2 separate regions of the Homo sapiens genome follow, and region 2 is reported to be linked to region 1. The links are microRNA targets in miRTarBase. Many come from high-throughput screens and were not tested one by one. Region 1 holds a microRNA gene; the other region holds the end of a gene's coding sequence.
Evidence for each region. The annotated mature microRNA hsa-miR-876-3p reads UGGUGGUUUACAAAGUAAUUCA and lies in region 1 at 1,428-1,449, shown strand. An mRNA with a match to its seed (bases 2 to 7 or 8) in the 3' UTR can be bound and repressed. Matches are read on the target gene's strand: a 7mer-m8 pairs with bases 2 to 8, a 7mer-A1 pairs with bases 2 to 7 and ends in A, and an 8mer does both.

Region 2: the mRNA of TRIM38 is a reported target of hsa-miR-876-3p. The part of its 3' UTR that is shown has no 7-base or 8-base seed match.

What each region holds. Positions count from the first base shown.
Region 1 is chr9:28,861,902-28,865,084 of GRCh38, reverse strand. It overlaps MIR876 (microRNA 876), which reads left to right and starts at 1,379; the gene lies at 1,379-1,459. The region is part of intron 2 of LINGO2 (leucine rich repeat and Ig domain containing 2); the gene reads left to right.
Region 2 is chr6:25,983,210-25,986,392 of GRCh38, forward strand. It overlaps TRIM38 (tripartite motif containing 38), which reads left to right. Exons shown (of 8, transcript NM_006355.5): 8 at 1-3,183. The coding sequence ends at 478. Among named protein-coding and RNA genes, the nearest start is that of LINC02980, 7.9 kb to the right of the region's middle.

The sequences.
Region 1 (3,183 bases):
ATTGCTAATTCCTGCTACTCTTTCAGTTCTCTTATATATGGTATTCCCTTAGAGAAGACATCTGTAATCAACGCTCTTAGCACTGAATTAAGTGGCCTCTCCATGTCTCCATTAGCCCTATATGGAAACTTTTCATAACACCTATTACTGCTTTTTTCAAATTCTTGTTTTCTCCTTTGTATTTCTTGAAACCTGGAGTTTTTATATCCCCAGCATCTAACCAAGACTATGCCTGGCACATGATAAGCGCAAAACAAATATTTTTTTTTCATACATACATATTTTCTACAAATTTTTTATTTAAATATTTTTAATTATTCAGATACTTAGCAAGTTTGGCTTGGTTGTTATATGTGTGGTTGGTGGAGGTGAGTAGGGTATTCCTGAGCAGTGACCTACACTGACAGTGGTGAACTGCCTAGGACTCTTATGTTCATGAGCTTCTATAAAGCAAACTTTTAATTAATGTTGACATTTGATGGTTACTTTGAAAAATGTTGAAATTTTCAAAAGCATGAATTACTTGATTGATATTATGCTTACTAGGCTGGGAAGATTTATAGATTCTTTTCATTAATTATAAATGAAACCTTTCTTTTTGCTCTTTAGATAAAAGTTAAAAGGTGGGATTCTGGTTATTTTGCAAAGGAGAGTAACTTTATTGTTTGTTTTTCATTTTTTATTGGTGTGGTTTTCTTTCAGAGTTGAACCTAATATGTATAATATAGAATTTAGTTTTATAAACATTCTTGGACTTCAGCAGTCATATGAAAAAATACTTACTTGGACAAATATCAGAGGAAAAAACACTCAGGTTAAACTCATTTAATGATTGCCTTTGAACTTTTATTTTAAGTTCAGGGGTACAAGGGCAGATTTGTAACATTGGTAAGCTTGTGTCATAGGATATGAGATTATATGAGTATAAAGTGGGAAGCTAAGTAACTGAGGATATCTTTAGAACAAATTATCCCAGCAACACTTATATACTGTGATATGGATGTGAGAATTACATATAGTTTTATTATTTATTCTACTCCCTACTCCTGACATCTATATTAATAACCATGCCCTTTTATTTTGATGAGCAGAACCCTGTTTTTTCATCCTGCATAATGTCATGCTAGTTATTGTATTAGGAATTCTTTTAAATGAAATTTACTGGTATATAATATAGAAAGCATGCATTTATTTTTAAGTTTTATTTACTTAAAATAAATGTTCAGTGTTTCTTGTGTGTTTCAGCTAAAAGAGGGTGGTGCAAAACTGAGCATATTCTTCAATTGATTGTGAACTAGATGGAAATACTTCCTCAACTTTTGGTGGCCAAAGGGTACTGTTTTTGTTGGTTCATAGGTACCAGGCTTTACACAAACTGTGAAGTGCTGTGGATTTCTTTGTGAATCACCATATCTAAGCTAATGTGGTGGTGGTTTACAAAGTAATTCATAGTGCTTCACAGGTGCTTCTGCAGTTGATCTACACCATGAAGCCTAAGATTCCTTTACTGAGCCATTGAGAACAAGCCACTTTGTATTACAAGACACACAAAGTCAAGAGATCCCTGGTAAATATACTCTAGAATCCTTCTATTTGGTGCTTAGTGTTAACAGTGATCAAACCTGTGTCAAACACACCAGAAATTATGGTTACTTTACCTAAATATACATGTTTTACATAGTTGCTGTCTCTGTCTCTACTGTTCTTTTTTTGAAAAGTAATTTGTAATATTTCTTGGTTAAAAAAACATGATACATCAGAAACATTAATTGAATCAGCCCCTTAAATCCTAAGCATACCATTTTGAAGTTTAAATATCATATTTTATTTGGATTATTATGCCCAATTAATATATTAATTAAATAGTTTGGTAAATGATCAGGGGCTTGAAGACATCATTGTTATGCAGTACTTTTGTAAAAAGCAACATTTTATTTTAACAAGAAAAACATTGGTGTGGGCAAAAAAAATCACCTTAACATACCAAATTGTACATTTTGATGGCATATATTAAAATTAGGTATTCACTGGGCATTCATTTTCATTTACTCTTCTGGAAACAGTATCTATAGTCCTATTCTATGACAGAAAAGATTGTGTAACCTTTACAAGGTCACAAAAGCCTAATTGTTGACTAGTAATTGCTTATTAAAATAAATGGAACTTTGTGGTCATTTCTGTCATCAGGATTACCAAGAATGGATTATCCCTGACCATAAATCAAACAATTGATGATTAACTATTTTAATAACTGATTAAGCTTTCAAATAGTCATTTTGGTTTTACCGTTTTTTATTTATTTCCAAGGCTAGAGCGTAGGTCTTATTTAAGTTCAATGGTATGACTATAAGACTGTCAGAACTATGAAAACTTCTGACCTTTAATTTCTTAAGTGACACATCTGGACACCTAAGTGACAGTGGTACAGGCTTCTGAAATTACTTTTGCATCATCATTGAATATATCTATTGTATTCATTATGACTTTATTTTGTCCTGTTATGTTTCATTCCTTAGAAGTGGATTATGCATATGCTCTATAAGGTTGGGTGACTTTAAATAAATTAGCATACTAATTTTTAAGCCCTTCTGTTAGATAAAAGAAAATCAGTATATTATTTTTCAACATATAAATGACCAAAAGAATGAATCAATATGTATACTTTTAACCTTAAAATATATGTGTATAAATATGATTGGAAATGCTTTACCTAAGAAATATCTTGCTACTCTAATTTAATTTGAACTATGATACAAACATGTTATTCTTATTTCCTAGCCTTTAATTCTTCAGTATTTATTATTACCATTCCTTGTCTGATACATATGTAACCTTATTTTTCATAGGACTGTATGTTCATAAGCAAAATCCACAGAGCTCTGGGATTTCCTGTGCTTTTGTTGGGTGCTACTTTGCTGATGTGTGAGGACAGGTGGGAAAAGAGTCTGAGAAGACAGGTTTCTGAAATTAATTTGTCCTAGAGCTCTTTGATTTTTCTGTTTTATGAAAGGGGGCACCTGTAAAATTTCCTTTGAGCCGAAGCTTATGTTTTTAATGATAATATGTAGAACTGCTGATATATGAATTTAGAAGGAAGTCACAATATTTTTTCTTAAGATAATTTTTAGTTTACGGGAGATATAATGGGATGTGCTAATGGACTAATAAGCATATCTCATAATC
Region 2 (3,183 bases), not on the chromosome of region 1:
CTCTGAGGATCGGAGACAAGTGACTCGTGGATACACCCAGGAGAATCAGGACACATCTTCCAGGAGATTTACTGCCTTCCCCTGTGTCTTGGGTTGTGAAGGCTTCACCTCAGGAAGACGTTACTTTGAAGTGGATGTTGGCGAAGGAACCGGATGGGATTTAGGAGTTTGTATGGAAAATGTGCAGAGGGGCACTGGCATGAAGCAAGAGCCTCAGTCTGGATTCTGGACCCTCAGGCTGTGCAAAAAGAAAGGCTATGTAGCACTTACTTCTCCCCCAACTTCCCTTCATCTGCATGAGCAGCCCCTGCTTGTGGGAATTTTTCTGGACTATGAGGCCGGAGTTGTATCCTTTTATAACGGGAATACTGGCTGCCACATCTTTACTTTCCCGAAGGCTTCCTTCTCTGATACTCTCCGGCCCTATTTCCAGGTTTATCAATATTCTCCTTTGTTTCTGCCTCCCCCAGGTGACTAAGGAAAAGAGCAGAAGCTCCTTGGTTTAACCAGCACAGAGAAAATAATATAAATCCCATAAGGGCAGACGTTTGGTCTGTTTTCTTCGCTGTCATTTCCTTAGTAGTTAGACTAGTGCTGAGATTTTAGTGGATATATAATTGATTTATGTTGAATATATGGACTTAGCAACTAAAAATACCACAGATGGTTAACCTGGACTGGGGCAAAGCAAGATAATAGTGATGATCGTATGTTGCTGTCTCCATCCGTCTTTAATGGGTCAGGGCTTTGATTTCCAAGGGTCTTCAGGTGATGAGTAGGGGTACCCACAAGTCAGAAGGTCTGCGTTCTCCTAGTTTGTTTGCTGCCATTTGAACTCATGTAGGGAATGAAAGAAAGCTGCAATTATCCGCCAACTGCATTTAAAACAAAACAAAACAGAAAAATCAAAATAACATTGACTCTTCCAACCACTGACATGTTGTTTAATAATCTAAGCGGCAGTCCTGGAGGCTACCAGACTTACTGAGTTCTACCTGAGAAACAGCCAAGCAAAGTGTGAGAGAAGGGTTAAGACTGGCTTACAATGAGATGCTTCAAATGAAAAGGGAATTATGAGTAAAATTGAACTTTGATGGGGGATTCAGTTCTGGAAAAGAATTTGGTATTTTCCAGTCTGCTAGGACCAATTACCTTGAAATATTTTAAAATCTCAGTAAATAGTTATTGCTGAAATGGCTGTTGGCAGTTCTTATTATGATTCAGAGAAGAGCAAATAGACCTTAACTTCATTTTGAAAAAGACCAAATTACCATACCCGAGTGAGTAATGACAGGACTACAACTAAAACATAAACAACATTAATGATGACCATAAAAAGTCACAAAATTGCTAAATGTTATAATTTAGAGTTGACATAAAAATTGATGGCCAGGCATGGTGGCTCACGCCTGTAATCCCAGAACTATGTGAGGCTGAGGCAGGTGGATCACTTGAGGTCAGGAGTTCAACACCAGCCTGGCCAACATGGTGAAACCCTGTCTCTACTAAAAATACAAAAATTAGCCGGGCATGGTGGTAGGGGCCTGTAACCCAGCTACTCGTGAGGCCAAGGCAGGAGAATTGCTTGAGCCTGCAGCAGCTGCAGTAAGCCAAGATCATGCTGTGCCTCAAGGAAAAAAAAAATTAATGTTTACTGATATTTGTTGAAGTCCTACAACATCACCTCTGAGAATAGGAGAAATGAAGCAACAGTTGTGTCTAGATGTCAGAGGCATGGCTGGGCCTCCATCTCTGCCTAAGGGAGATATAAAAGAGTTCAAACTATTGCCCATGTTCCCCAGGGTCAGAAGTTCTAATTATGATGATAGAGGCTGGGTTGTAAGTAGTAAGTGAAGGGTAGCAGAATATGCCATCTTTGGCATAAGAAGTATTTTGAGTTGAAGACAATTGAGAAAAAAAATAGATTAAAAACAAACAAACACCTCTGCCCTCTCCCTATTTGCCTAAAAGCAGGATATGAAATTGTGAAGGTGTCTTCTTACTCGGGGAAGAACAAAAGTTAGTCACCAGAGACTTTAGACTCTTATCAGCCTGGACATAGCACCAGAGAAGTCTTTTTTTTTAAAAAAAAAAAAAAAAAAAGGGAAAGAAAAAGTTGCCTTCCCACAATTTACTGCACTAGAAACTCAAAGTCCTTTTCGTCTTCCTTGTCACTTAAAAAATGTATTCTTTTCTTAAAATGCTATATAAGCCCAAGTTCTAAATCCTCTTTTGAGTATTCATCTCAGTACTCCCCTGTGTTTGTACAATGCACATGCTTTGTTTCTGTCTTGTCAATCTGTCTTTTGTTAGTCTACTTGATAGGGCCACAGATGGAGAACCTAAGATGAATAGAAAAAAAAGATTTTTCTCCCCAACAGAAGGATTATCGCCAGTTGCACTTGTTCTATATACCCGTAGTCTCGGTATGCTGACCCAGACTTGGGTAATAGGACCCAGTGGGTAACCGAGGAACCCCACCTTTGTGCAGGATCAGTGAAGATGTAATCTGGATATTCATAAGCTCTTCTCTACCTCTTGGCATCCCACAGTCCTGTGTTAATGTAAGTGTGGTCTTCCCCAGAAAGGGGAGGCCTCCCTAACATTGTTAAAGCCTAGCATATGCTGCTTAGAGGAAATTCTATATCCCTAAGCACTTAGATTGCTGAATAAGAAAGAATGATAATAAAATAAACAATTAAATAAAAGTTTTAAAAAATGAATAAAATAAACCTGTGGAAACTATAAGGAAGGCCAGAAGAAATATAAAATTGGAGATTAATTGGGGTGCAGGAAAGTTATGGAAAGAATATAAGTCCTGCTAGATAAATCATTAGCTATTTTAATAAAGAATACAGAAGAAAATAGGAACAAAAGAATATATACTGGAATAATTTTGAGAGTAATTTGAAGAATTAGATGCAAATAAATTTGAAAACCTTTAAAAAGAAACCAATGGCCTAACTGACCCAAGAAGGGAAAGAAAATCTAAACAGACTGATAAATACAAAATGAAATTCAGACACTTACAGAGCAGCCAGGCATGGTGGCTCACACCTGTAATCCTGTCACTTTGGGAGGCTGAGATGGGAGGATCACTTGAGGCTAGGAGTTTGAGACTAGCCTGGGCAAGGCTCCCATCTCTAAAAGAAAAGAAATTAGCTGGGCATGGTGGCATGTGCC